4 linked regions of the Homo sapiens genome follow. The protein of the gene in region 4 purifies or fractionates together with the protein of the main gene of each other region. This does not show direct contact. Each region holds a gene or a part of one and is shown on either strand. Other genes may lie near its edges. The genes, in order: IGF1R, DOCK4, RTF1 and ARRB1.

What was found.
Region 1: the proteins of ARRB1 (region 4) and IGF1R purify together in Homo sapiens (affinity purification with western blotting; 3 studies listed by BioGRID and IntAct, with this or other methods). This does not show direct contact.
Region 2: the proteins of ARRB1 (region 4) and DOCK4 purify together in Homo sapiens (affinity purification with mass spectrometry; 2 studies listed by BioGRID and IntAct, with this or other methods). This does not show direct contact.
Region 3: the proteins of ARRB1 (region 4) and RTF1 purify together in Homo sapiens (affinity purification with mass spectrometry; 3 studies listed by BioGRID and IntAct, with this or other methods). This does not show direct contact.

What each region holds. Positions count from the first base shown.
Region 1 is NC_000015.10:98,643,893-98,651,552, reverse strand, and holds the start of IGF1R (insulin-like growth factor 1 receptor isoform 1 precursor), read right to left. Parts: upstream 3,015-7,660; 5' UTR 1,972-3,014; coding exon 1,878-1,971; exon of another isoform or gene 766-1,877; intron 713-765; exon of another isoform or gene 603-712; intron 1-602. UniProt on the Homo sapiens protein: Receptor tyrosine kinase which mediates actions of insulin-like growth factor 1 (IGF1). Binds IGF1 with high affinity and IGF2 and insulin (INS) with a lower affinity. The activated IGF1R is involved in cell growth and survival control.
Region 2 is NC_000007.14:111,867,310-111,874,420, forward strand, and holds part of DOCK4 (dedicator of cytokinesis protein 4), read right to left. Parts: intron 5,256-7,111; coding exon 5,158-5,255; intron 5,044-5,157; coding exon 4,960-5,043; intron 4,782-4,959; coding exon 4,681-4,781; intron 2,347-4,680; coding exon 2,265-2,346; intron 846-2,264; coding exon 675-845; intron 1-674. UniProt on the Homo sapiens protein: Functions as a guanine nucleotide exchange factor (GEF) that promotes the exchange of GDP to GTP, converting inactive GDP-bound small GTPases into their active GTP-bound form. Involved in regulation of adherens junction between cells.
Region 3 is NC_000015.10:41,413,001-41,420,103, forward strand, and holds the start of RTF1 (RNA polymerase-associated protein RTF1 homolog), read left to right. Parts: upstream 1-4,094; 5' UTR 4,095-4,115; coding exon 4,116-4,313; intron 4,314-7,103. UniProt on the Homo sapiens protein: Component of the PAF1 complex (PAF1C) which has multiple functions during transcription by RNA polymerase II and is implicated in regulation of development and maintenance of embryonic stem cell pluripotency.
Region 4 is NC_000011.10:75,271,582-75,278,692, forward strand, and holds part of ARRB1 (beta-arrestin-1), read right to left. Parts: coding exon 7,028-7,111; intron 5,868-7,027; coding exon 5,783-5,867; intron 5,331-5,782; coding exon 5,258-5,330; intron 2,631-5,257; coding exon 2,493-2,630; intron 1,398-2,492; coding exon 1,314-1,397; intron 144-1,313; coding exon 120-143; intron 1-119. UniProt on the Homo sapiens protein: Functions in regulating agonist-mediated G-protein coupled receptor (GPCR) signaling by mediating both receptor desensitization and resensitization processes.

The sequences.
Region 1 (7,660 bases), on a different chromosome or scaffold from region 4:
AAACTAGAGAAGCTATACAGTTCAACTGCATAACATAACAAAATGGATTATTTCTCCCGTGTCTTCTAAACCGTACTTATCTTTTAAAGATAAAAACCCTCCTTTGTCCCCCCAGCCACCACCTAAACGACTTAGTAAAGGGAGCCGGAAGGCTTTCGCCCAATCGAGTCCGCTGAAAGTTTAGAAAACAAAGAGCAGGAGAGCCCAGATCTGTGGAAGGTCCGGCCCCAGTCCGCGTCCCACTCGGCAGTAAACACGCGAACCACGATCTGCTCTCGTTCCGTCGCGGACTCATTTCTTACCAGACGTTTAAGGATTTGTTTATAGAAACAGCCTTTCTGAATTGCCCCGGTGATGGGGCCATACAACCTCCGCTGCCTCCTCCTTCCCCGCCTCACTCGTGAAGGCTCAGTCGTGATTTTTTCAAAGTTAATCGGCACCACCTGCATACCCTCGGCAACCATTACTCACCAACACGCCCTCACCGTTCCCAGTCCCAGTTCTGCGACATTTAAACTTTTAATCGTGTTCAAATTACCCTACCATCTTGAATGTACCAGTAAGCCACACTTTCAACTTTTTCAGAAGAATAAAACCCCCACCTCCTCCGGCCGTAGACACCGGGGGGAGTTCTCGCTCCCCGCATCCCCGCGCTTCCCTACTAACCCCCACCCGACACCACCAAAACAAAAGCTATCAGATTGCAAAAGACAGCGAATGTGGAGCGACACTGCTTATTAACTACGTACAAAGGAAGTGCGGGGCGGCAGAAGAGAGGGCGACACGACGCCGACCACAACAAAACCAAGGCCAGGGCTCCGCGCTCGCAAAACACAACACCCTCCCCGCGCCGCCGCAGACCCTGGCGCTGAAACCACAGCGTACGACACCTCTCGCCAGGGACGGGCGTCTAGGTGTCCCCGTGAGGCGGCGACTACACCCCGCGCTGCGAGCACGTGTGTCGGAATGCACGTCGGCTCCGACCACACACCCACCAACGCACACTCGGATGCGGCCCTAGTACCCCTCCATCCCCCGGCCCGGGAGAAACTGGGAGACCATCCCAGAGCCCTCTGAACTGGGGACCCAGTGGCGCTCCCCGGAAGAGACAAGCTGAGGAAGACTCCCGGCCTCGCACTTCCCGGGGGGCTGCCCAGAGAGCGCTTCCCCTCACCCCACCGCCCAGCCCCGGGACGCCGGGGGCAGGTAACCCAACGAGGAGCGGGCCAAAGTGACGGGCAAGGCCAGGAACCCGAGGAGCCCGAGGGGCAAAAGCACGTTGGGCGACGGGAGGCAGCGACGGGCGCTTGGAGACGTGTCCTGGGGCTTCGGGGCCTCTCCGCAGGGCACCTCCCCCCTCGAGGGCAACTCGCACCCCGCGGGCCGGGCGGCTGCCCGCTCCCCACTGCCCGGTCAGCCCCAGCAGCGGAGACGCGGTGCGGCCCAGGGTGCTGTCGCTGCTGCCTGCGCGCCGCAGGGGATCAGCGCTGTGTGCGGAGAGGCTCTTGCGCATGGAAGGGGCGAGGTGCGGGTCGCGGGGCCCGGGAACCGCGGAGCCCGCCCCGGCACCAACTTCCCTACCGAGTCCTCGCGCCTAGCCGGGAAACACGGCTGGGCTGTCAGGACGGAGAAAGAGAAAAGCCCTTCCCGCGCGGGGATGCGCGGAGCCAGGGCCCGCGGGGCTCCAGACGAACGAGCCCGGGTCCCGGGTCCGCTGCAGCCTCCCTCCCGGCAGAGCCGCCCTGCGCCCCACCCCGCCGCTCCCGAGCCCGGGGGCCCGACAGCTGCGACGGTGGCAACTCGGGTTTCGCAAACAGGGCGCAGCCCCTCGGAGGAAAAGTTCCCGCAGTGGCCGCGGGCGGCGGGCACATACTCACTTTCTCCACTCGTCGGCCAGAGCGAGAGCGCGGCGGAGAGAAACAGGAGCCCCCACAGCGAGGTCGGGGACCCTCCTCCGGAGCCAGACTTCATTCCTTTTATTTGGGATGAAATTCCCCTTTCTCAAAAAAAAAAAAAAAAAAAAAAAAGAAAAGAAAAGAAAAAAAGGAAATGAAAGGAAACAAGTCTCAAACTCAGTCTTCGCTCCCCCTCCAAAAACAAGGGCGAAGGAAACAATACTCCGAAGGCGGCGCCGCCGGGGCCCTCCGGGTGCGCGGACGGGGCGGGCGGCGCGGGGCGGCCCCTCAGCGCCGGCAGCAGCGGCCCAGGGCTCGGCGGAGTCGGGAACCCGAGGCGCGCCGGGGCGGGCTGTCGGCGTCGTCGGCCTCCATTTTCAAACCCGGAGAGGCAGGAAGGGGGGAAAACTGCAAAGAAAGGGGGCAAAGCCCAAATCTGCCTAGGCGAGGAAAAACAAGCCCGGCCCTGGCCGCGCGGGAGGCGGCCGGACGCCCGAGCTTCCGCCGCGGGAGGGCGCGACGCAGTTCGCAAGATCGCCCCGAAGTCCGGGTCACAGGCGAGGCCGGCGAGGGGCAGAAACGCGGAGTCAAAATGAATGAGCGGCTCCCCCTCCTCCTCCTCCTCCTGGCTCCGCTCGCCGCCGCCTCCTCCCTCAGCGCCGCCGCCGCCGCGGCGAGCTCCTTCCCAAATCCAGGACACACACAAAGCGGCGGGCCGGCCGCGCCGCGCTCAGCACTCCCGCCGCGCCGCCCGGCTCTGCGCCGCCGCCCGCCCCGCGCCGGCCCCCGCCCGGCCCCCGCCCGCCGCCGCCTGCTCTGCGCGGGGGCTCCGGCTCGCTGAAGGTCACAGCCGAGGCGAGGCGCGCCGTGGAGCTGCCCCCGCGCGGGAGGGGCGTGGAGGGCGCGGGGGGATCCGGGGAGCGGGGCCGAGGGTCTGCGAGCGCCGGCCGTGGGCAGGCTCGCTGGCGGCGTCCCTCTCGCTCTCCCGCCTCTCTCGAGTTCGCCTGGTGCGCTCGCTCCTCCTCGGGTTTTTTCCCTTTTTTTTTCCGCTCAGCGGAGTTAATGCTGGTAAACAAGAGCCCCAGCCTCGCCGCGCCGCCGCCGCCGCTGCCACACACTGGGGGCTCGCGCGCGCGCGCGCGCCCTGGCCCGCGCACACGCGCCCGCTCGCACACTCGAGCGGCCACCGCCGCAGCAGCGGCGCGCCGAGGGCCCGGCCCAGGCCGGCGCGCGCAAAAAACCGGAGCCCGGTTCCCCAAGACGTGCGGAGCGGAGCCCGGGCGTGGGGCGCGAGACTGCGAGGCGCCGCCCCCATCTCCCGCCCCACCGCCTCCCGCGCGCACACAGAGACACGCGCGCGTGCCCACCCGCTCCCGCCCCCACCGCACTGCGCCGGCCACCCCGCACGCGCCCTCCCCTCCCGCCCGACTCCAAAAACAATGCCCCCGCCGCCGGTCCGGTCTCGGCGGGGCAGGGGTGGGTAGCCAGGGAAAGGCTAGGCAGGGGAGGGGTGGGCAGGAGAGGGGAGGGGTGGGCGGGGAGTGCGGGGCTGGGAGAGGTTCATTGAAAACAACAACAGCGCGGCTGGAAAGCGCGTTTCCCCGGTTCTTGAAAAGCTTCATTGTTTCTTGCAGCTGTTGCAAAATAAATAAATGCGTGCATGCGGCATTTTTTTCGCTGCGTACTGGAAAGCCCGAACGTGGCGGAAGGGGCGCACCTGGGAGAAAGGGGACCCCCCCCCCAGGCTACTACGCCGGGCACTTTCACGCCAGGCTGGGGTGCCCGCGGCGTTGCGACCGTGGAGCCCGGAGTTTGGGGGCTCAGGGGGAGCGGAGGGGGAAGGGCGCGGCCCGTGTGGCTCGGCCCAGAGTGGCTCGAGGAGAGAGGACCCCGCCGCCCCTCGCGGGCCCCGCGCCCCGGAAGGGGGGCCCAGACAGGCAGCGCCGCGTGCCCCGGGCGCGTCCCCGCGGCGGCCGCCAGAGGGCGCGGCGGGCGCTGGGGAGGGCAGCCCGCGGAGAGTCGCCTCCCTCCCTCCGGGGGAGGAAATGTGGGGGCCCGGGCTGGGGGCCGACTCGGCTGGGTCGCGCTGGCGTGGCCTCCCGGACCAGCCGCCCGCCCTGAGCGCTCTCCGCGGCCTCGCGCAGCTCAGGGCTCCACCACGTGGGCGGCTGCGGGGAGCGGCCGGGGCGCGTGCACGCTGCGGGTCTCCGAAGCTCGGGGGGCGTGTCCGGGTCCCGGGGCGCCGAGGAGGGGGTGGAGGCTGGGGCCGGGAAGCCTCCCTTGGCCGCGGTCCCGACCCGGGAACACGCCGCATGCACTCGGGATCAGCGGCTACTGCGGAAACCCACCCGCACCTGTCTCGGGTCCTCCCAGGCACGTTCCTCTTGCTTCGTTTGCTACGTAAGTGACTGGAAACCAGTACCGACCCTAAGTCTCCGCGGTTGTTTTCTTGAATGTGCAGGAGGAGAGGTTTCCCCAAAGCGAGACTCCCCTAGGACTGCCATCTAATGAATAAATGCTGCGGAGACCAGGTCCTCAAAGAGGGAAACAGCCCAGCAGTGGCAGGAGAGAGGAGTTTGAAATACGTGGACTTTTACAAACAGTGATTGGACCATGTGTCGCCCTTAATGTGGTCCGGTTTCATGACTCAGGCTAATTGATGCCAGTAATAAATTTTTTTAAGATAGCTAATAAAAGAGTTGTGAATTGTCGAGATAAGAAGTGGTTGTCTCAAACAATCGGGTAGGATGGTAGAAGGGACCTGATGTAAAGGAAGGTAGTAGGTTTCTTTTACTCTCTAATTCTAAAATACTTCTGCATTAGAACGTGTATCCATCGTTCGTAAATAATTTTTTAAGAGCTGAAAACAAGTCAAAAGCTATCATAACGGAAACTTAGCCCTTTTTTTCTAAAGTTGTTTCCTAGATCATTTTCCTCCTTGGAAATTTCTAGCTCAATTCAGAGTCAGTTGTATAGAAAGAAAATAAACCTTGTTTTACCTAAGAAAGTTATTCATATGATGGGATGGTTTTGTTTAACTGAAATTCAGCTTGATTTTTAAATAAAGAGTTTCAGTTTTGGATGTTCCTAGATTTAACAGTGAAATAAATTTATTAGAATCTTAAAATGTATTATTTAAAAATTAGGCACTACACATGAAGAATTAAAGTCCAGTCTACTAATTTTTAAATATTTCTTAAGTTCTCTGCATGAGGTTGGTCTTGATTCCTGCAGATCCACTCTGGAGTTAAATGCAAAGGAATATTGATATATAATTTCATTATACTTGATTTCAGAATTTTTAATACATACTTGTAAGACAAAAATTTAGAGCTGATTTTTAAAAGGCTAGTGCTAATATAAAATCTTCAAATACTACCCAATGTATTTTTAGTATTAGTAATAAATATGCCTGTTTATTTGTCCCCAAGAACATAAAGAGGTCTATAGAATTTTTAAATGTATATAGGTTGTTGTAGGGGTTGTAGGATTTGTTTTTGTGTGTTTTTTTTTTACTAAAATGATTTTTATTTGTGAATTTTTTAAATGTTTGTGTTTTCCTGAAGTAGTAGGAAATCAATCGTATTAAGTTATTTTAAACAGTGAAGTGGGAGATGTATCATTATATAGCTTAATATTTAGGGAAAAAAAAGGAACAAAAATTTAGGTTGTCTTTACGCTCTAACTTGACCACATGGACAAAGGAGGTGATTTGTATTTCTTCAATGATTATATTTTACATACACAAGTCAAACTTATTTTTTCAACCTTGAAATAAAATCATGTAGACAAAAATTAATTGGAGTCTTTGCTTTATACCCACATTGACAATGCACCAAACTTTTTATTTTATACCATTTTACTCAGGTATCTTATAGGTTCTCCCTCTTTTGGAGCAGAAACTGATTGCTTGTTTTCATTTTTTAAAAACGCCGTTTACTTGATAACAGTTTCATCTCAAATTATTCTGCTAAATGTACCAGACTCCCCAAAAAATGTAATGTATATCATATACATCAAGTGCAAACGTGAGAAACAGCACAACAATTGACAAGTATCAAGTAATACAGTATATTGTGATGTATTCGCAGAAAGGAATGTTAGCAGCAAAAGTGAATAAACTACAGCCCCACACAACATGGGCAGATCTTTGAAACACACTGAGTAAAAATATACAAATATCAAAAACGCACACAGCGTAACACCATTTTGATAAAGCTCTTAAAAAGCAAGGAAAACTTTAAAAGTTACAGAAAATTTTTTTTGCTTTAAATAATAAAATAATATTTTTCCTTTGTTTTGCTTTTGTTTTAGCAAAAGAATTAATGAAGGATGTGAATTCCTTTGGAGAGGATGAGAAGCCCATAGGCACATGGGTTTCCATTGTAATTTGGAAATGAGTTCACTCTTGGATTGAGTGACGGATTTACAAATTTCCATTTTATAAGTATGCTTAATAACTAACACATGTTCTACATATTTTTGTATGTATAAAACATTAAAGAAGATAAATAAAAATATGGGAGAGATCCATGAAAGAGATCATTCTGGTTTTCCAATGGGAGTCGTTCAGATTTCGAGCTGTCCGTATAAATAACTCAGAAGCATTAAAGATCTACTAAAATAACACAGTTAATCAAGGTCTGATCCTTAAGATATTTCAGAAGAATGTCCACACATCTAATATCGATGCAATTTAAGACAAAAATCAAAAGACAAAAAATTTAAAAGACCTCACTTCACAGGTAATAAGCTTCATTAAGAGTGCATTATGTCAACTGTTTGACAGTTTCTTATAAGGTAAAACATACAACTAACTTACGATCCAGCAAGTCTAGCCCTAGTTATTTACCCAAAAGAAATGAAAATTCCACAAAAATACTTCTATGGGAATGTCAATAGGTGCTTTGTTCATAATAGCAAAAACTAAAACAACCCAAATGTAAATCAAAAGGAGAATGGATAAACAAATCATGATATATCCATTCAATGCAATACTGCTTAGCAGTAAAAAGGAATGGACTACTAATCCATGCAAAAACATAAATGAGTCTCCAAAGCATAATGTATAAGCCAAAAGAGTACATACTGTATTAGCTCATTTATGTAAAGCTCAAAAACAGGCAAGATTGATCTAGAGCTAGAAATCAGAATCATGGCTGCCCTGGGTGGGTAGAGAGGGAAAGTTTCAAATGACTAGGGAGAGGCATAAAGAACTTTCTTGGGTGATGGCAATGCTCTATATCTTGATGGGGTGTTGGCTATGCTAGTATATGCATTTAGCAGAAACACATCAGACTGTACACTTAAGATGGGTGCACTTCATTCTGCATAATTGTATCTGAATGTTAAATTGTTAAGATTGTATTATAATTTAGATAGTTGCAGCTGTTCTAAAAAAAATGTTAGCACAATGCTTCCCGTTTTTACTATTAGGTGAGTTAGTAGAGATGCTAAACTCCAACATCCTTGCCCACAGCTGTCTACAGATGTGTATACTTTCAGTGTGTATCTGCCTAAGGTCTTTCCTTAGGGGCATTAGCTGTGGAAGGCATCACATGGTCTCCACAGAGCACCCCAAGGGCAGGAAAAATACAAGTGATGCTGTAGCTGATTCCTATCCCCACACAGCCACAAGCAACAAGAGTCTCAGTCTTGTTGAGGATCTGTTTATACTCAACTTGAGAAGATTTTCTATTTTAGCTCTGCATAGATAGCTGGCTCCCAAGGCATAAATGCTACATTTCTCCATGATGCTTTAAAAG
Region 2 (7,111 bases), on a different chromosome or scaffold from region 4:
CTCCTTCTGACAGGTTTTTAACCAAGTCATTAGAATTAAAAGTATACAAGAAGAATCAAGAAAGTATAGGGAAAATATTCAGAATTACCTCATGGAACATATTCAAGGCCATGCTATTTGGGAAGTAGATGGATCCTGTTCTTAAAAAAAACATGTGGGGCTACTTCCGGTAATGGAGTTTGGCGGCAGCAGCAGCTCTGCACTGGTCTTAAAAGATCAGTCCCAGGATGATTAGGGTCAAGTTCAATAAAACAAAACAACATGCAGCTTAGCTGAGTCCAATATAATGATTCTCAAGTTGACAGATTAAAATGCAGTGAGAAGCTTGGGGAAAAGAACTGCAAGAGATTGGCCCTAGTGAAATTCCTTCCCCAGGGCTGGTGGTGACAGCATGTCCAGTCGTCAGTATGTGTTCTGGTAACCGGAAATGAAGCTGATGCAAACCAATAGCCTCTCCATGCAGAGAGAGAAGGGAAAGGCAACCCACTTCTGCTCAGCTGGTACACAGAAGGTAGGGGAATTTTAAAAGTCTACTCATAAAGTTGGTTAAGCTACAAATATAAACTGGAGCAATTGACTTCTGATGGAGAAAACATTTGATTACGCTGCTGTGTAAAAATAAATAAACTGCACTTATCGTTTTCTTCTATTCAGCATAGATGAAAAGAAATTACCTGTGACTGAGATAATGCTCCAGACCCTTTGCTCTCTTGCGAAAGAAAGAAACGGACTGACATGAGAAGCTCCTGAATGCAGCAGCGGAACTCCTCTTCGTTTTGCCCACCAGTGGCAAGGGAAAACAGCCTTCGAGATTGAACTATATACTTAAAAATGTATTCTTGTGCCTTAAAAATACAATTTTTAAAAGTTAGCTTCAAAGGAGACAAAGAGTATTTATTTAGCAATGACACGGCATAAAAACCATGGTATGGCATTAAACTTTTACATTATTCATGTAGACACCAAGGCCTTGTGAGGCTTTTTTGAACAGTATTTACTTTAAGGGGGAACAGCCACTTTTCTCTGATGCCTAATGAGAGAAAAAAAATTTAAAAACACTTTAAATTTAAAAGAAATTTAAAAGAAATAGAATTTTAATAGAAAATTTAAAAACACTTTAGCCGGGCACGGTGGCTCACGCCTGTAATCCCAGCACTTTGGGAGGCCGAGGCGGGTGGATCACCTGAAGTCAGGAGCTCGAGACCAGCCTGACCAACATGGAGAAACCACATCTCTACCAAAAATACAAAACTGGCCAGGCATGGTGGCCCATGCCTGTAATCCCAGCTACTTGGGAGGCTGAGGCAGGAGAATTGCTTGAACCTGGCAGGCGGAGGTTGCAGTGAGCAGAGAATGCACCATTGCCCTCCAGCCTGGCCAACAAGAGCAAAATTCCGTCTAAAAAAAAAATTAAAAAAAAAAAAATTTTATCATTCTGGAGTATGATGAACACTAAGTGTTTTTGACCCTCAGATGTTTTTTAAATTTAGTCAACAAAAAGATAACTGTTTTTTAAAAAATAATTTTGTTTTGACAGGTAGTACTCTTGCCACTTAGCATTTTACCTTCAATCAGCCCAAATTACAAATGAATAATTCACAAAATGCTATTTTATAAAATGTATACATTGTCTACTTAAAGCTACTGACACCAAATAGGATGGTCCTCAACAACAGGAATCAGAAGACTACCAGGGCTGTTACTGGACAATTCCTTTAAGAATTTGTACTCTTTTTCAACATGTTTGCAAGTAAGGGATTAGTATCTCCACAGACAACTGAGCATATGGTGCCCAGCGATGTGGGCAGCGTTAAGCCACAAGACCCGGTAAAGCCTCAGGTTTCCTCATTATAATCCCCGCTAAGCCACCCTATTTGCTCTTAAAATTTAACATAAATGGTTCTCCGATGGTCTCTGTCAGGTTGGTGGAAGCAAGAGCCAGGAACTTCTAAGCTTAACTGCCCCATATAGACTTCTCTCATAAACCCTCCCTCTCTCCTGCTCATCTTAGACTTCACTTCAAGTACTCTCCAGCCCAGAGGAACAAGGATTCAATCCTGAACAGTTTCCAGTAGACTACCCTGGCAAAGTCCCCTTCAAATTTCATCAGCTCTCAAGCAGTCACAAACTGATTAAGATCCTTGAATTGGAATGTCAGTAATACATCATCACCCATTACTGTCTGTGTAGAGGAACCAATTAGTTTAAGCATCAGCATGCAACAGCTTTGTTAGACTCTGCTGTTATCAACAGCATGTTATCACCTTCAGCACCTCCTGGATATGCTCTTGCCGCTCTGCTTCTGTGATCCGGTCCACGTACCATTTGAGCACTTTGATGAGATCTCTAAAATACAGGGGAAAATGTGCAGAATGTAAAATTGGTCTAATTCTCAATTAAATGCCAACAAATCCAACTCTTAACTATATCATGAGGAGGTTTCTTTTCCCATCAGTTCTCACATTTTCCTGTCAATCTGCTGTATAATAATTTTACTAAATCTGCAGATCAACACTGCCACCCTTTTCAAAGCTTAAGGGAGAAACAACACTCAATCTGGACATATTCCATAGCCCTGCTGTTTCTGGTAATGCCTCCAAATGGGTGAACACAAATATTGGAGAAAAGGACTGTGCCCAACCAAGTGCCTGGCAGTGTGAGTGCCATGGTCAATACTGTAAAACTGCTCATTGGGATTTCTTTCCCAGTGACCACGTAAACAGCTGGATGCAATATCATTAGGCTGCAGGCAAAACGGGGTGGGAAGGAGGGATGGAGACAATGCCTCCCCACTGCTATGCACACCTTATGGATTTATCAAGCCAATTTTCTGACCCATGAGAAGAACCTGGCTTATGTCAATATGTGCCTTAGGAGAATTTCTAGAAAGGCCAAGGTAATTTTTTTTCCTGTTTTGAAAAAATGTAAAAACAACAGCCCACAACTCTCAAGATGACAGTCTTACACCTTGAACTTTGGTCAGTTCTTGGTTTCTCTTTTTTCTTTTTCTTTTCTTTTTTTTTTTTTTTTTTGAGACAGAGTCTTGCTTTGTCACCCAGGCTGGTGTGCAGTGGCTTGGCTCACCGCAACCTCTGCCGCCCTCCTGGGTTCAAGCAGATTCTTCTGCCTCAGCCTCCCAAGCAGCTGGGATTCAAGTATGCACCACCACGCCCAGCTAATTTTTGTATTTTTAGTAGAGGCCCGGTTTCACCATGTTGGTCAGGCTGGTCTTGAACTCCTGACCTCAAATGATCTGTCCACCTTGGCCTCCCAAAGTGCTGGGATTACAGGCATGAGCCACTGTGCCCAGCCAGTTCTTGGTTTCTAGGAAACAGTTTACCCAGCAATGTTTCTCTGGGTCAGGGGAGAATACTTGGATGTGCCAGTAGGTAGATGTTGGTGGAGTGCTATTTTTTAAGATAACATGCTAGTGAGTTTCTGATCACCCCCAGCCTAAGAGGATTCCACAAGCCTTATTTGTCTTTTTAAGATCCTGCTTTCCTGGCCAACCGGAAGTGTGAGAAATTATACTCTTGTTTTCTAGCTTCCAAAGACAATTTAACTTGGAAGCAGTAACCTCCTCACACTAGGGCCCAAATTGTTAGGCTGAGTGGGCCGATGTTTCAAAACTATTCCTGCGGTTGCATTTCACTCTCAGCAAAAAATCACACTGATGAAGTGTCAAGTCTAACAAAAATACCTTCATTCATTTCGATGTTGGAGACGTCGATCTTAACCTGTCATGGCTGGGAATATCCAAGTAAACAGGATCAAATGCTTATCTGATAACCTATTAACCTTTATATATTACATAGATGGGGGAAGGATATCAACCTGATTTCATGCTTTTTAAACTCACCTCAGGGAACAGTCAGGCATGTGCATGCCCACAGGTGCTTAAGGTATAAGGTAGAAATATGGGAGAACAGCAAGGACCATATTGGACTGGGAGACAGACGATGGGGTACACTCCAAGGCTATTTAAGCAGTTATTTGTCGAACTAAAAGAGAGAAGCTGTGGCCTCTGGCAATTATCAACTATGTTGAGAGGAGGCAGGCACTAGCCAAAGCATAATATTATTCATAACTTTTCAGCACCACCTGAGCCAGTAGAAAAGGAGGAGCAGTTAAAATAGCAGCTCCTATCAAAGAGTAGATCCCAATGACTAAATTGCCTGAGGCCAGGGACCAGGTCTTCACATCATCAGCATAAAGTACAGTGCCTGGCAAGCAGCTGGCACTCAGTAAATCCTAACATAAATGAATGGATGACTTTCAGCAGGTGTGAAGGAAAAGGTTGTTTTCCATTCATATTTCTTTCTTATGAACATTTATAATCATCAGGGAGTACAGTGATGAAGTGGGACTCTTAACAGCCGAAGTGAGATAACCAGACATTTTAGACCAAAGAATATCCAGTGAAACAGAGACAAGAAGGAAAGACTTTATATTTTAGGGCTCAGGAATAGAATTCAGGAGGTTTTTTTCCCTTTTTAATCAAAATAAGTTCTACCCATTTAAAAAGGGTGTGTTAGCAGGGAAGAGACTATCTCAAGAGACACTTCAGTAGTGCTCCATTTCTTCCTACACTCCCTTTTAAATTTTCCTATATCGCCTCTTCTGCTGAGAAAAGCTTGAAAGGAACCACTTCTAAACTAATTACAAGATACAGGGCCTTACCTGTATGCAAGTGCCCCAGCAAAATGACTCTCAATGTAAGTGTCCATTACAGGTTTAAAATGATGAAATTTGCTATCTTGCAGCAAATTTATTATGTGAACCTAAAAAAAGAAAATTGAGCTTTATAAAACTAAATGCAAATCAAGGTTTTCCTTTTTTTTTTGCTTCTTTTTAAAATGAACTCTTACATTATTAAGCACATGTTTCTGAACCAGCCTCATGAAAGTCAAGATTGAGAGACAAAACAGTTAAAATACAATTAAGGGAATTTGAACTTACCAAAGAATCAAACACTTTAGACCCATATTTTTGGGAATTTTCATCTAAAATTCCAAATAAGGTATCCAGTGTATCCTGCAGAAACTGTTAGATAAAGAAGTAGCAAATGAGTAAATAAGATACTATCTGTCTTTTTCCTCCAAATGTTCTTTATTCTATGAATCTCTGCAAGGAAAATAGTAATGAAATACTATATACCTTTACTATCTCTGAGCCATCAATTTCTTTTAATTTAGAGAGACAGCCAGTGATCTTGTCTGGGTGGGTTCTCCATTTCAAAAGATCAAGCATATCACCTTTCAAAATAGAAAAGGAAGATTAATTGCCTTAATAGAGAACAGGTCCTCACATGAAAGCGTTCTGCTAGTAAAAGTAAAATTCTTAACACATGTGGCTCCCCTCTCCTAGCCACTCAAGTTGCAGGCTCCCACAAACTATGACTAGCCCTCTCTAGGATGGCATTTATTTCACTGTATTCTGTTTCCTCTCCACTGCTCTTGACTTACAAACTCCTACCCATCCTTTAGTCCTCAGATCGGATGTTGCTTCATTTTGGAAGCCTTTCCTGAAATCTCGAGCTAACTGTCCCTTCTACATGCTTCCACATCACAGTAGCACTTACAAATCCTTACAAATCAGGCAGGTGACAAATATTTGTTGATTAATTTTTCTGCCTCCTCCTGGAAAGATGAGAGTTTCTTGAGGGCTGGGAACCTGCTTTATTCCCGTTTGGGTGCCCAGCACATAGCACTCTGCCTAGCAACCAACTCCACCCAGGAACAAAGGTCTTCTTGGCAATGTGACCCAAATCTTGCAGACTAAAAGAATGGTAACAGGCCCAGTGATTTCTTAGATCATCCAGGGAGCTCTCAACCTGAGAAGAGCAGCTCCTGGACTCCACAGGCCATCTTTCATCCCAGAGTCCAGATAAGCACAGGGCCCAGCTCTTTAACCCTTTCCTAAACAGACATGAGGGCTTTGGTCCAGCAGGTCCTTAGAGAACCTCTTCACCTGGGGAGGGAATAAATTTATCTTTCTTGGGCAGAAGTTACAAAGGCTGTGGGAGATGGTCTCCATGCATTATTAGTCTCCAACGCATGCAGGGAGAGGTGGCATCTGGAGGCCAATGAATGCAGTGAGAACTGAAGGCTCGCGTGTGCCGAGCACGCGCAGGGCAGCGGGACCTGGTAGAACTGGCCTCAGGGCTCAGTGGAGTTGCCAGACTAGACTGGCCGAGAGAGGAGCCAGGACAGAATTTCCAGGCAGGGAAGCAGGAAATTTACTTCAAATCACTTGTTTTAGCAGAAACCCAAAAGGGACTTTCTGAGAAACAGAAAGATGATGAGGGAACAAAAACTCCAAACCCCCCAAACCAAGGAAGTAGGTAAGATGAGAAAGAAAAAGAGAATATAGAGAACACCAGTGAGAAAAAGCATTAAGAATCTCAAGGAGAAAGAGAAGCAAGCTCCACCAAAGCCAGATTCAAGAGAAAAACCTCACAAAGGATTTACTATTAATAGTAAGGAATTCAGTACCAAACAGGAATGTTTATCTGCAACAAACACGGGTAAGAGGAGGAGGAGGAATTAGAATGAGAAAAATAAAGTGATTTTAAAAATACTGACTTTGAAAAAGAGATTTATGATGTTTTCATAACCAAAAACCCTGAAAATGTTGACTATTCAGATGTAATTCAGACATCCTGGGGTATGACTGAAACCTTTTAAAACTGATTGGTTATATTTGGCATATCAGATATTTCCACAGAGTGAGACTCAGGGCGACAAAGGCAAAGCTCTATTGTTCTCCCCAGTTTGCTGCTTCCCTCCTACCTACTTCCTACTTCCTGCATCTCACTTCAGGAGGCCTCCCCTCCCTGGCATCTTCTCTTTCATAATCCCTCGTGCATTTCCCCTGCCATTCACTCCTCACTTCCCACTCCACCCCCATCCCAGCTCTCACTCCTCCTTTGTGTTCTCTTTCCCTTCCTTTAAAGTGAGGCAGTTGCAGGGGCCATCAGGACCCTGCTCAATGTGAGGAGTGTGGGGAGGAAGGAGGTGGCTATGCTGGCTACCAAGTGGCAGCAGTGGAGAATGAGGACTAGGGCCCATTTAAGTAGGGCTGGAAAACAGATTACAGGGGTCCAGAAAAT
Region 3 (7,103 bases), on a different chromosome or scaffold from region 4:
CAGGAGGATCACTTGAGGATAGGAATTGGAGACCAGCTTGGGCAACATAGTGAGATCTTGTCCCTACAAAAAATAAAAATAAAAAAATTAGCAGGGTGTGTTGGCACATGCCTCTAGTCCCAGCTACTTGGCAGGCTGAGGTGGGAGGATTGCTTGAGCCCAGGAGTCTAAGGCTGCAGTGAGCCATGATCATACCACTGCACTCCAGCCTGGGTGACAGTGCAAGACTCTGTTTCAAAAAAAAAAAAAAAATTCCAAGATTAGATAATGGACAGTATTTTTTTTTTTTTTTTTTTGAGATGAGGTCTCGCTCTGTTGCCCAGGCTGGAGTGCAGTGATGTGATCTCAGCTCACTGCAACCTCCGCCTTCCAGGTGCAAGCAATTCTCCTGCCTCAGCCTCCCGAGTAGCTGGGACTACAGGTGGGTGCCACCACGCCCAGCGAATTTTTGTATTTTTAGTAGAGACGGGGTTTCACCATATCAGCCAGGCTGGTCTCGAACTCCTGACCTCAAGTGATCCACCCTCCTTGGTCTCCCAAAGTGCTAGGATTACAGGCATGAGCCACCCCGCCTGGCCTAACTTATTATTATCATTATTTTTTTAAATTTTGAGATGGAATTTCACTCTTGTTGCCCAGGCTGGAGTGCAATGGCGCGATCTCAGCTCACTCCAACTCCGCCTCCTGGGTTCAAGTGATTCTCCTGCCTCAGCCTCCCAGGTAGCTGGGATTACATGCGCCTGCCACAATGCACAGCTAATTTTTTTTTTTTTGTATTTTTAGTAGAGATGGGATTTCACCATGTCGGCCAGGCTGGTCTTGAACTCCTGACCTCAGGTAATCCGCCTGCCTCGGCCTCCCAAAGTGCTGGGATTACAGGCGTGAGCCACCACACTCGGCTTGGCCTAACTTACTATTTTTTTTGAGACGTGGTTTCTCTAAGTTGCCAAGGATGGATTCCACCTCCTGGGCTCAACCGATCCTCCTACCTTAGCCTCCCAAGTAACTGGGACCATAGACCTGTGCCTCCATGCCTGCTTTGTAAACTTAAACCTTATAAGAACCCAAAGAGACAGACACTATCATTATCCTCATTTTACTAATTGGAAACTTTGACTGGTTGGGTTCTCTGGGAAGCTGACTCAAGAGGGAGTTTAAAGCAACGTTTATTCACTAAATTTAGACATTGATTAGACTCAATACGGACTAACTTCAGTACGTGAATCATTAGAAGACCCCTTGCAGAAAGATCAAAATCTACAGATTTCACTCAAAGAACATACTTTTATTAATTCCAGTCAAGGGCCACTGACCATGTCATGGCTTCCTTTTTAGCAGTACTGTGTATTAACACATTTAAAGAGGGTCCTCCAGAAGGGCACCACAGGCTTCAGGGTGGCTAGACATACGGAAGCTGGGCTGGTGATTCGGGGTCACCTTGGCCATGGTTCCAAGGATATGTCGGGGGAGAAAAGTCTATGAGCTGTATCTTAGGAAAACTCTTCTAGGGTAAAGAGGTAGTTGGACTTTATTTAGGTTGTTTTATTTATTTATTTTTTTGAGACAGGGTCTCACTTTGTCACCCAGGCTGAAGTGCAGTGGTGCGATTATTTTCTTTTTTCCTTTTTTTTTTTTTGAGAACAGGCTCGCTATTGTTGCCCAGGCTGGAGTGCAGTGGCGCGATCTCAGCTCACTGCAACCTCCACCTCCCAGGTTCAAGCAATTCTCTGCCTCAGCCTCCCAAGTAGCTGGGAATACATGCGCCCACCACCACGTCTGACTAATTTTTGTATTTTTAGTAGAAACGGGGTTTCACTGTCTTGGCCAAGTTGGTCTTGAGCTCCTGACCTCGTGATCCACCTGCCTCAGCCTCCCAAAGTGCTGGGGTTACAGGAAAGAGCCACTGCACCCGGTCCAGATTATTATTATTATTATTATTATTATTTTTGAGAAAGAGTCACGTCTGTTGCCAGGCTGGAGTGCAGTGGTACGATTTCGTCTCACTGCAGCCTCCGCCTTCAGGTTCAAGTGATTCTCCTGCCTCAGCCTCCCAAGTAGCTGGGATTACAGGAACACGCCACTATGCCCGGCTAATTTTTGTATTTTTAGTAGAGACAGGGTTTTACCATGTTGGTCAGGCTGGTCTCGATTTCCTGACCTTGTGATCCCCCTGCCTCAGCCTCCCAAAGTTGGGATTACAGGCGTGAGCCACTGTGCCCGGCCTAATTTTTGTATTTTTAGTAGAGATGGGGTTTTGCCATGTTGGCCAGGCAGGTCTTGAACTCCTGCCCTCAGGTGATCGGCCCTCTTCAGCTTCCCAAAGTGCTGGGATTACATGTGTGAGCCACCACGCCCGGCCCCTACTTTATATTCCTAATCACTAAAGGAAATAACTTCTGGAGCTGACCTTTTTATCAGCTGACCTCAAACTTAAGTATAAAAACTTATTTCCTATACACACCAGTTCCCAAAACCTTCTTCTCTCCTCTTGTATTTCATTTTTTTGATGAAGGGCTCACCTGCCACTAGCTTCCTAAGCTAGAATCTGAACATCAATAGGTATCTGGGAGCACTCCTTCCCTTACCCCTATCCCAAATCCTGGGGATTCTACGTTCCAAATTATCCAGAGTCCATCCACTTCTTTCCATTCCCACAGCTTCGTCCTTAGGTCAGGACACCATCATCTCTTGCCAAGAAGACAACAACAATCCAAGCGATCTCCCTGCCCTTAGTCCATTCGCCATACTGCGGTCAGAGTAATCTTTGAAAAACACAAATCAGGCCTGGGTGCAGTGGCTCATGCCTATAATCCCAGCACTTTGGGAGGCTGAGGCGGGCGGATCACCGGAGGCCAGGAGTTTGAGACCAGCCTGGCCAACATGCTGAAACCCCATCTCTACTGAAAATACAAAAATTAGCAGGGCGTGGTGAAGGGCGTCTGTAATGCCATCTATTCCGGAGGTTGAGGCTGGAGAATCGCTTGAACCCAGGCGGCAGAAGTTGCAGTGAGCCAAGATCGCGCCATTGCACTCCAGCCTGGGCGACAAGAACGAAACTCCGTCTCAAAAAAAAAAAAAAAAAAAAAATTAGCCGGGCGTGGTGGCAGGAGCCTGTAATCCCAGCTACTCAGGAGGCTGAGGCAGGAGAATCGCTTGAACCTGGGAAGCGGAGTTGCAGTGAGCTGCCACTGCACTCCAGGCCGGGCAACAAGAGCGACTCCGTCTCCAAAACAAACGAACAAACAAACAAACAAACAAAAAAACACCACCACAAATCAGGCTGGGCACGGTAGCTCACGCCTGTAATCCCAGCACTTTGGGAGGCCAAGGCAGGAGGATCCCTTGGGCCCAGGGGTTCGAGACCAGCCTGGGCAATATAGGGAGGCCCCGTCTCTACTAAAACACAAAACCACACACAAATCAAATCATGTGGTTCTTCAGTTTAAAATCTTTCAATACTCAAGTTCAAACTCCCTAATTCAGCTTACTTATTAGGATCTGAGTGAGGCAGTCGCCGTGTCCTTCTCCAGCCTGGTCTGTCGCCTATCCCCACCCACAATCTCTGCTCTGGCCATAACTAACTTCAGTTCTCCGAACCTAACTTTATTATCGCCGGGCCATTTTGCCTACGCTGTTCTCTGCATGCAACACTCTACTCTCCTTTTGGGTAATTCAGATGCATTCTCCAGGTCCCAGCTCAGCTGTCATTCGCACAGCCCGGGTCGGCAGTCTCCAGCCCCCAACCGGTGTCCACCGCGTGGTCCAGGCGACTTATGTCTTCCAGGCCGTCGGCCCCTTAAGTACACGCCATCAGTGTTGGACAGCTTGAAAGTAGGTAGACACGTGAGCCCCCTCAGAGAGAACCTGGATCCTTGCGGCTCCAGCCCCCGATAGGAAGAGAGCCCACCAAACTTCGGCTCCGCAGCAGAGATACAGCCAAGGACTCCAGGGCAGTCGCGGGTAAAGCCACCACCACTCTCTGCCGGGAACCAGCGACGGGGGAAGGCCCCGCCTCTCACGCTGCGTCGGGGGCGGGGCAGGGCGGGGCACCCGGCGACCTGCGAACGGCGTGCGGCGAGCAGGGGGCGGGGCCAGGGGGGCGGAGCGGAGCGCGCATGCGCGGTCGCCTTTGTGTGGGTCGAGCAGCGGCGGCGGCGGCGGCAGTGGCGGTCCCACTGGCAGGCGGGCAAGAGGGGAGTCCGGGCGGCGGCCGGCGTGGGAGCCGGGGGACCACCATGGTAAAGAAGCGGAAAGGCCGCGTCGTGATCGACTCGGACACAGAGGACAGCGGCAGCGACGAGAACCTGGATCAGGTGAGGGCAGGCCGCGGAGGCGCGGGCCGGCGGAGCCAGAGGGCTGTCGGGGCCGCGGGAGCCGGAGACGGCCGGGCCTGGAGCCTTCCTACCAGAGCGCCCAGCTCGCCCCGTGCCCTGGGCACCACTACAGCCCCTTTCCCGTCTTCCTGGAGTGTGCGGGGCCTTGGAGACCGGCCCGGGCCTGGAGACGGAGCCCCGAGGACTTGGCGCCTTGGGCGGGGAGGCGGGGCAGGGACCGGGCCGTTGGGCCTCGGGCTCGGGGGTAGCGAAAGGGGCCGCGATCTTCCGGGGCCAGATCGGGGCGGCGGGCTGTAGTCCAGGAGATCCGGGCTGGGAGAGATAGGAAGTATCGCCCGCCAACCTGGGAGGCTGGGAGGTTTTGGAGGAGGTGCAAGGGTGCGCGTCGAGCAGTTGGGGGCGAGGGCCAAGAAGATCCGGACTCTGGAAGATGGAAGTTTTTCGGACAAGGGATGTGGACAGAGGAAGGACACTCGTAAATGTTCCTAGGAGCCTCTGCCATGCTTGCCAAGGATGACTTAGCTGTGGGCACGAGTTTATTTGGCGACTAGGGTCGTTTGTGTTTGAGAAGGGCCCTTGTTGAGGTGTCAGACCCAAAAAAACACTCTTGGGTGGAGGAAAGAGGGCAGATACTGGAAGAAATAGAGAACTATGTAGGGCGACATGGAGGGACTGTGCATAGCCCAGGCCTCCTCTTGGCCCTTTCACGCAGCATCCCAGAATTCTTTCTTACTTGAAGACTGCAGGAAGCACTGAAAGTAACTTTTGGCCTCAGTGTCTTGGGGTTGAACTGTTTATATACTCTAGAAAACATTGTAGGGAGGAATCTGCTCTTTGTAGCAGTGCTCTAGTGATACCAGGCGATACAAAGATGGTCTCCTTTCTGTTTAATGAGCAAATGATGTAAAGAAAGAATATGCAAGAGATAGTAGCTTTTGAGTAGAAAGAGTATTGAACTTGGAGTCTGAAAATTTGAATTCTAGGCTGGGCTTATGCTATTTTCTAGCTATATATCTTTGGTCTTAAATGTAAAATGAAAATGTAACATCAGCCTTGTGTATCTAATTGGTTTATTGTAAAGATCAAGTGTTTGTAAAAATTGATGGCAGTGCAAGCATTTGCTAATTGTAAAGTTTTTCTATGAATGGCTTCTTGGGGGTCTTTTATATGAAGCCAGAGGTCTCAGTTTGAAAGTATTAGGGGCTGGGCGCGGTGGCTCACGCCTGTAGTCCCAGCACTTTGGGAGGCCAAGGCTCATCTGAGGTCGGGAGTTCGAGACCAGCCTGACCAACATGGAGAAACCCCATCTCTACTAAAAATACAAAATTAGCGGGGCGTGGTGGCACATGCCTGTAATCCCAGCTACTCGGGAGGCTGAGGCAGGAGAATTCTTGAACCCGGGAGGCGGAGGTTGCAGTGAGCCTGGGCAACAAGAGCGAAACTCCATCACAAAAAAAAAAAAAAAAAGAAAAGAAAGAAAAAGAAAGTATTAAGGCATAAAAGGGGAGGACTTTTTATTTATTTATTTATTTTTTTTTGAGACGGAGTCTCGCACTGTCGCCCAGGCTGGAGTGCAGTGGTGCGATCTTGGCTTCACTGCAAGCTCCGCCAAGGGGAGGACTTTTAAGAAGAAAAGGATTGAGGAGGTGCTGTAGAAAGAAGACTGCTTTGAAAATGGTGGTAGGGAGATGGAGAAGTAATGGGGCCTGTGTAAGACTATCTAAGGAATAGAAACTTTGTTTTGGGGTAGGAATTGAAAATGTTCTCATTGAAAGGCTCCTGAAGTTTACAAAAATATCAAAAGTATAATTTCGACTGTAAAAGTTTGATTGGTAGATAATTTTAGACTGGCAATTAGAAGGAGTAGAATCTATTTTTTTCTGTCTTTTCATCTACAAATGTGAATGTTTCAGACAATAACAACATTGGCTACCATTTATATAGTGCCTAGAGTAGGCACTTTAATTGTTTTGTTTAGATTTTCAAGTTTTCACATTATGGTAAATTTGGAATTATTTCCTCTACTTTACATAAAGAAAATGGAGGTTGAAAAAGTTAAATAACTCACAACTAGTAAGTGGTAGCATTGGGATTTGAACCCAGATCTGCATGAGTACAAAGCCTATACTGTTTCCACTATACCAACTCAATCTGTTAGTTTTAAATTTTTTTCATACTGCAAAATGATAATGTTTCACAGTCATTTTTCATGGTGCTAGAGTTCGTGTTTATAAAGTACACTGGATAGTTTAGAGGAAATTGGTACATACATTAAAAGGATTATTTGGGGGGATTTCTTGGTAAAGCACTCTCAAGACATCTGTTCAAGTGATGAATGAACTGAACTGCAAATTATTGTCCTTAGTAGTTTCCCACAGAATTCTGATGAATAAAATAAGTTGAGTGCTTCTTTTCGTGGTAGAGATATTTCACCTGATCCACAAAAAGCTTTTTCAAAGTGGGAACTGCAGAGAATTGCCACTTTATTTATTTATTTATTTTTGAGACGGAGTCTTGTTCTGTTGCCTGGGCTGGAGTTCAGTGGCACAATCTCAACTCACTGCAACCTCCGCCCACTGGGTTCAAGCGATTCTCCTGCTTCAGCCTCCCGTGTAGCTGGGACTACAGGTGCCTGTCACCACACCTGGCTAATTTTTTGTATTTTTAGTGGAGACAGGGTTTCTCCATGTTGGCCAGGCTGGTTTCGAACTCCTGACCTCAAGTGATATGCCCACCTCGGCCTCCCAAAGTGCTGGGATTACAGGCATG
Region 4 (7,111 bases):
ATCTGAAATGACCACTAAGATTCCTTCCAACCCAGTGCCCTGTGATTCTGGTCAGTCAAGCCAATGGGCTCCAGGCCCTCCAGGAAGGTGGGTGAACCAGGTGGAAGGGAGGAATTTACCTGGATGCAAGATCTCCCAACAGGCTGGGTGGGTCAGAGGAGGCAGGAGAAGTGGTCAGGAGAGAGTTCAGAGAGGAAGAAAACAAAAAGCACATTCATTCACCACTTCTGCTGTCCCCCGGATAGAGAAGACCCACGGGACACACTCCCACCCACCCCCCTGCACAGCCCTGACTGCTCTTTCAGGGATACACCGAAATGGCATTAGCCCTGCCCCGAGGGACTGGGATCCAGACCCAGCTCAGCAAACCCCTGAGCCCCAGGATCCTCATCTGTCAAGGCAGTGTAAAAATTAACCCCAGTGCTGCCTGTCCCAAGGGAGGCCGGACTATCTAAAGGCAGAGGGAAGGACTCCGGGGTTGCCAAGAATGTTTGAGGGACTGTGGGTCCTGAAAGGTCACCAGACACAGGATTTGGGATTTGTAATTTTGAGATGTCCTATTATATAAGGTCAGGATTACATACTGCCACCTGCCAAGAGGCATTCTTCTAATAATCAAGGAGACCCAATGTCTAATGGGATTTAGCTTTTCAATCTTTTCATAGAAATTTATGAATTAAGTTACAAAAAAGAAACACAGTAGTTTGTTTGTTTGTTTTTCTCCCTGAGCTTCCACCAAACTATGCTCCAGGGCAGGGCAGTCTGGTCCACCACTATGACCTGAGTTAGGAGAGGAGATTTCAGGCAATGTTTGGGGCACTGTCTGGGCCTCTGTTTCACCATCTGTAAAATGGGAAAGCTGACTAGCAAATCCCCAATCCAGCTCTGGGTTCTGAGCCCTTTTAGCTGTTTCCTCAGAAAATCAGCTTGGGCATGCATGGGGGTGGGTGCTATGCCCAAAGTGTGATAAGGAGATGGCACCCCTGGGGACCCCACAGCAAAGACTCTGAGGACGCCGTCCCCTGGGCATGGCCAATCCTCAGTGCGAGCCCAGACCTAGGATAGAGGAGGAGGAGAGAGAGAAAGAGATGGGTGGGGGTAAGAGAGGGGCTGAGGGCCAAGGAAGGAAGAGAGGGAAAGCGGGCGGGGGAGAAAGAGGAACAGAAGGGAGGAAAAGAAGGGACAGGAGGTTCCTCCTCCAAGGTGGATGCAGCTAAAAGGGCTGCAAACAGGCAGAATGGGGCAGGGGCCTGTGGGCACCTGGGACGCTCCCCTCTGCACTCCGGGGTCTTGGGCTTGGCTGGAGCACTCACCCGCCCCGAGACACCACCAGCTTCACTTTCACTTTGTAGGAAACAATGATCCCCAGGATCTCACGGTTGGCACCTTCCCTCAACCTGCAAAGTGACACAGGGGAGCCAGTTCAGGGGCCTTGCCAGGTGGGCGAGACACCTCAGGGGTGGGTATGCTGGGGGGCAGTGGCCGTCCATCCCCCATCTGGCTAGCCACTCAGCTACCATGTCCAATAGAGCCCAGTGGAGATGAGGAAGGCGAGCAGTGCCCTTAGGTAGCAGGGACCCAGAGCCCCGGTTCCAAGTCTGACTGTGAGACTCGCTCACTGTGTGGCCCTGCTGAGCCCCTCTCCCTGCCCAGGCCAGCGTCCCCGCCATGAGGGCCAGGCTCCTCCTCCCCTCAGATGGATTCTGCTTCTCTCAGCAACCCATGGGCAGAAAGGGCCACACGGGGAGTTCACAGAGGGCGAGGCAGCTGGGGTGGGGTGGGGTGGGGGCCATCAGAGAAGGACTTCTCCGCAGAGGTGGTGCTTCAGCTGGGTCTTGAAGATGGGTAGGGTGTGAGCCAGGGTGGAGACAGGGCAAAAAGCTTCAGGTAAGTGGGAGGCTGTGCAGGGGCTGCTGAAGAGAGCTGAGTCTGTGCTGGGAGTGGCGGCTGCTCTAGACGTAGGCCAAAGCCCCACTGAAGGACCACACTGGCAAGAGGGCAAGATGGCATCCCCATAGCCAGGGCTCTGCTGGAGCAGAGTAGCCTAGAGGCGTCCACGATGACTGTGCAGCAGGAGTGACCAGATGCCCTGGGACCCCTGACTTGGAGGGGCACCCCATGTTGGGTCTAACCCAGCTCACCACCCTGGTCTCTCCTCAGGGACACCCCATCTGACTGAAGGCATTACGTCAGAAGCTGCCACCTCTTGCAGGAAGCCTTCCCAGGTTGCCCTCCCCCAGGCATGGTAGCAGAGCCCAGCACTGCCTGAGTGAGCTGGCCTAGTGGTCCATCTTATTCTCTCAGTCACCCCTGGGTAGGGTTGGGAGTAAGGAGGCAGCTTCCCTGACAAGTCAAGCACCTGAGGACAGGCCCTGACAAGGCTATGGAGAGGGTAGCCTGAGCCTTGTCTTTGAACTGGGGGGACCAAGGAGGGTGTGGCCCCATCAGGCAAGATGCACTAGGAGCCCAGGGCTAGGAGGGCAGGTCCTCACAGGGTGCTAGAGGCCAAGTTCGTGTCTTCGTGCTTGAGCTTCCCGTCCAAGGCGAGGCCCCGCTTCTCTCGGTTATTGGCTAGGAAGGGGGTCAGTGTGTAGACCTTGCAGAACGTCGAGCTGGGTGCCACAGTGTCACTGGGAAGAAAGGAAGCAGCTGTGGAGATGGCCCTCCCCAGAGCCAACCCCAGCCCTGATCTCCAGCCCAGCAGAATATCTAGTCTGAGCCTGCTCCAAGTCTCCCTCTCCCAACCTCTGTCCCCCAGACACACGGACCACTTGGGCCAGCCCAGCTCGGGCAAGGAGACCACTGCCACTCAAAAGAGGCACATCTACATTCTACGCACAAACAGGACTGAATCTCGGATATTCTAAAAGATTATCCTAGTCAAGCAGCACAGTGCTAAAAAGCACATTTATTTAAAGAATTACAGCCAGCCGGGTGCAGTGGCTCACGCCTGTAATCCCAGCATTTTGGGAGGCCGAGGCGGGTAGATCACGAGGTCAGGAGTTGGAGACCATCCTGGCTAACAAGGTGAAACCCCGTCTCTACTAAAAATACAAAAAAATTAGCCGGGCATGGTGGTGGACGCCTGTAGTTCCAGCTACTCAGGAGGCTGAGCCAGGAGAATGGCATGAACCTGGGAGGTGGAGCTTACAGTGAGCCGAGATTGCTCCACTGCACTCCAGCCTGGGTGACAGAGCAAGACTCCATCTCAAAAAAAAAAAAAAAAAAAGTACAGCCACAGCAGGCACAGTTGCTCATGCCTGTAATCCCAGCAACTTGAGAGGCTGACAGGAGGATTGCTTGAGGCTAGGAGTTTGAGACCAGCCTGGGCAACATAGCAAGACCCCATCGCTACAAAAAATTTTAAACATTAGCCTGATATGGTGGTGCACACCTGTAGTCCTAGCTACTTGGGAGGCTGAGGCAGGAGGATCACTTGAGCCCAGGAGTTCGAGGCTGGCTGTAGTGAGCCATGATCATACCACTGCACTCCAGCCTGGGCAACAGAGTGAAACTCTGTCTCTAAACAAATTTAATTTAAATTTATTTTATTTTATTTTATTTTATTTTATTTTATTTTTTTGAGACAGAGTCTTGCTCTGTCGCCCAGGCTAGAGTACAGTAGTGCGATCCTGGCTCACTGGAACCTCCACCTCCCAGGTTGAAGCAGTTCTCCTACCTCAGCCTCCCAAGTAGCTGGGATCACAGGGGCGCGCCACCATGCCCGACTAATTTTTGTATTTTTAGTAGAGATGAGGTTTTGCCATGTTGGCCAGGATGGTCTCAAACTCCTGACCTCAAGTGATCTGCCTGCCTCAGCCTCCCCAAGTGCTGGGATTATAGGCGTGAGCACCAGCCCTGTCTCTAAACACATTTTAAAAAGAAAAAATTATAGCTACACATAAACCATAAATGAAGCTATTTGGGCACCCATATACCCACCATCTAGGCTCAACAATTAAAACTTTACTTGCTTGATCACATCCATCATATATAGGGTGTTTTGATTGTCCAATTTTTACTTGCTTTTGCTCTATCCCCCATCCTTTCCAATGAGAGAGCTGTCATGCAGCAGATAGTGAACAAGCCTTGGAGTCGGACGACCGTGTTCCAGCCCCAGCTTTGCTGCTTGCTAACTTGCAAGTCACATCTCTCTGAGCCACTTCCTCCTCTACATACTGGGGCAGCAGCAACCCCAGCCCCACAGCGCTTCCTGAGAAGTAAACAAGTCTGTGAGTGCAAATGCCTCCCCAGCCATCCCTGCTGGTATTCGTTATGCAGACGCTGGCACCATCTGCAGTGGTTGGGATTTTCTACTCTTTAGGGATTATATGTTACTCTGGTTCTAGATCACTTCACTTTACCATCAGGAATCTATGCCTCATAGCTCTGATTTTTTTGAAAAAATCAACAGTGGATATGAAAAATATCCAGTAACCAGAGAAAGCTTGATCTAATCATAGCATGTTCACCTATAGGACATTAAAAACTATTTCAAAGGCCATGTAGTAACATTTTAAAAATATTTTCAGTTGCAAGAAATACTGATTGGAATTATACATAAACAAATACACATATACATGTAAAATTATATCAGGTATAATTGCCCCAAGAAATTACTTGCAGGGCCAGGAAAAAAAAATGTGTATGTCTTTGAATGGGAGCATTTACTTCCTTTAGGTAAGTAAAGATGTTTCACTTCAGATCTCTCCACTTGCCTTAGCTGCCAACAAGCCTGGGACAAAGTTCGATCCATGCTCAACCATAGCAGTTCTCCTCAAACCTAGATGATTTTTTTGTGTGTAATTATTCTCTGCACTCCCACACACAACCCCTTTTTCCCAATGAGTTGGATTACCCCTTTATCAGACAAGAGCTGTGTACCTAGTGCCTTACCCACTTTGCCCTGGCTACCAGGAAGCCAAGAACAAAGTATTTCCCTTCAACCTAGGTTTCTTGTACAACGTAATTATTTCTTCTCACAACCCCAATCCCCTTACATTCATTAGCTATTGTTTTGTCACTCTAGTTTTAGTGGGTCTCTTCCTTGACTGTAGCATGCATTTTCTTGAAGCTAAATCAGGTGGATGGTTTCTAAAAGGCTCTTCGGGATCATCTACTCTGAGTGGCAAGGAAGTCTGAGGCCCAGCCCTCTGCCAGGTGGAGAAGAGCCACCTGGACCTGTAACAGGACACCTAGAGCTTCTCTTTTTCCCACCCAATCCCATACGCCCAAGGCCAGACTTGTGCCCACTTACTCAGCCTCTTCCATGGCAACAGGGCACTTGTACTGAGCTGTGTTGAAAAGGCAGATGTCTGCATACTGGCGCACTAGGGAGGGAGAGGAATCAAGGTGGAGTGAGTCGGGAATGTAGCTCCCATGGAGTCTCACAGGCGTCCCCGGGTTGGGGATATTCAGCCCCAGGCAATGGCCAGAGGCCACCAGTGGGGACTTCTGCATAAGACCACCCCTGTCTTACATCCAAAGGGTAGCCCCAAACACACCCATTTCCTTCCATAACCAAAGCCTTCCCCTCAAGGACAGCTTTGTCCAGAACCCAAGAAACTGAAGAGGTGGCTTAAAGAGCAAACTCATTACCTAGCCAATAAGCAGCCTGCCTTACCCAACTCAAAAGCTTTGCCCTGTGGCTCAGAGCAGGCCCTGGGCTTCAGTGGCTATTTTTTATACAAGGCTGTTAACAAGGGGAGATACTTCAGCCACCCCCAGCCCTTGGGAAGATTGCCTCTCGCTGTCCCCTAAGCTGACCCTCTGTCTGGGATACCTGAGATCTTGATCTTCTTCACCGTCTTGTTGGTGTTGTTGGTGACGTGGACGTTGACGCTGATGGGTTCTCCATGGTAATAGATCTGGGGGGCATAAGAAGGGACGGGGTTGGCTGGGAGGACAGCAAGGTTCTAGGGAAAGGGGAGGGAGAAAAGCCCCCACGCGATCTTCTGGGGTTCCCCAGACCTTGCGCAGACCTTCAGAAGGGTCTGCTGCTCCCATCTGAAGTCCATCACATCCCTCAGGTTCATGCCCCCTCTGCCACTCCTTTAGGCCCAAGAGGCTTCTCCGAATCCCCCAAGGCATTGTGACATTTGCCCCAAGTTCATCAGCCACTTCCCACTGCTGCTAAGGTGGCATGAAAGCCACCAAGCACATTAGCCTTCAGTTCCCTGGTGGGACCCTTGAAAGATAACGGAATTGGAAGGTGATAGTCCTGGGCTCCAGCCCTGGCTTGGCCAGCAGTAATTGTGACAACAATAACAACAATAACATTGACGATGATGAAAGCAGTGTGACCGTGGGTAGGTTATCTAAGCCTCAGGGTCTCCCTCTGTGCAACGAAGGGGTTGGACTAGGTGATGTCTGAAGTCCCTGCCAGCTCTAAATTCTGTCCACAGAAGGATCTGGAAGAAGCAGGGAAAGGTGAGGATGGGCTCACCAGCTCACTGAGGGAGCCAGCTCTGAATCCCTACAAAAAGACCTCAACTTGCATCTTGCCCCAAGGCACTTCCCTTCAGCCATGCCCCGAGAGAGAGGGGGTGCCCACACCTTGAGGAGGGGCCAGCCTAAGCTCACAGCAGTCAGCTGGGTTTGATTCAGAGTTTGAGGGGAGGCCCTTCCTTCTGCAGGGCTTGTCGCCCTGACGCTCAGTGTTTGGCAGGAAGGTCACGGCCCCCCACCGTGCCCCCTCTGCAATGCTGGTTGACCTTCAGCACTCGGCCTGAGGCAGGCAGCTGGTGGAGGTGTGGGGGAGATGTCCAGGACCTTCAGGAAGGTCTGCTCCTCACTTCGGAAGTCCATCACATCTCTCAAGTTCATGCCCCCTTTGCCACTCCTTTAGGCCCAAGAGGCTTCTCCAAATCCCCCATGAGAGGTCTCAGATTCCCTGACCCCTGTGGTCCTTGGGCTGGGGATAGAAGCTCCTACCTGAGGCATCCTTGCAGGCCAGGAGAGAGCTGGGATCTGAGGCCCAGGCCCTGGTGGAGCAGCCCCCACCCCCTGCCAAGTCCGAGCCTCCTACCTCCTTATCCAGAGAGGCTTCTAGGTGCAAGGGCTTGTCCGACATGAGGAACTGCCTGGTGGTCTCGGCTGTGGGCTGGGGGCC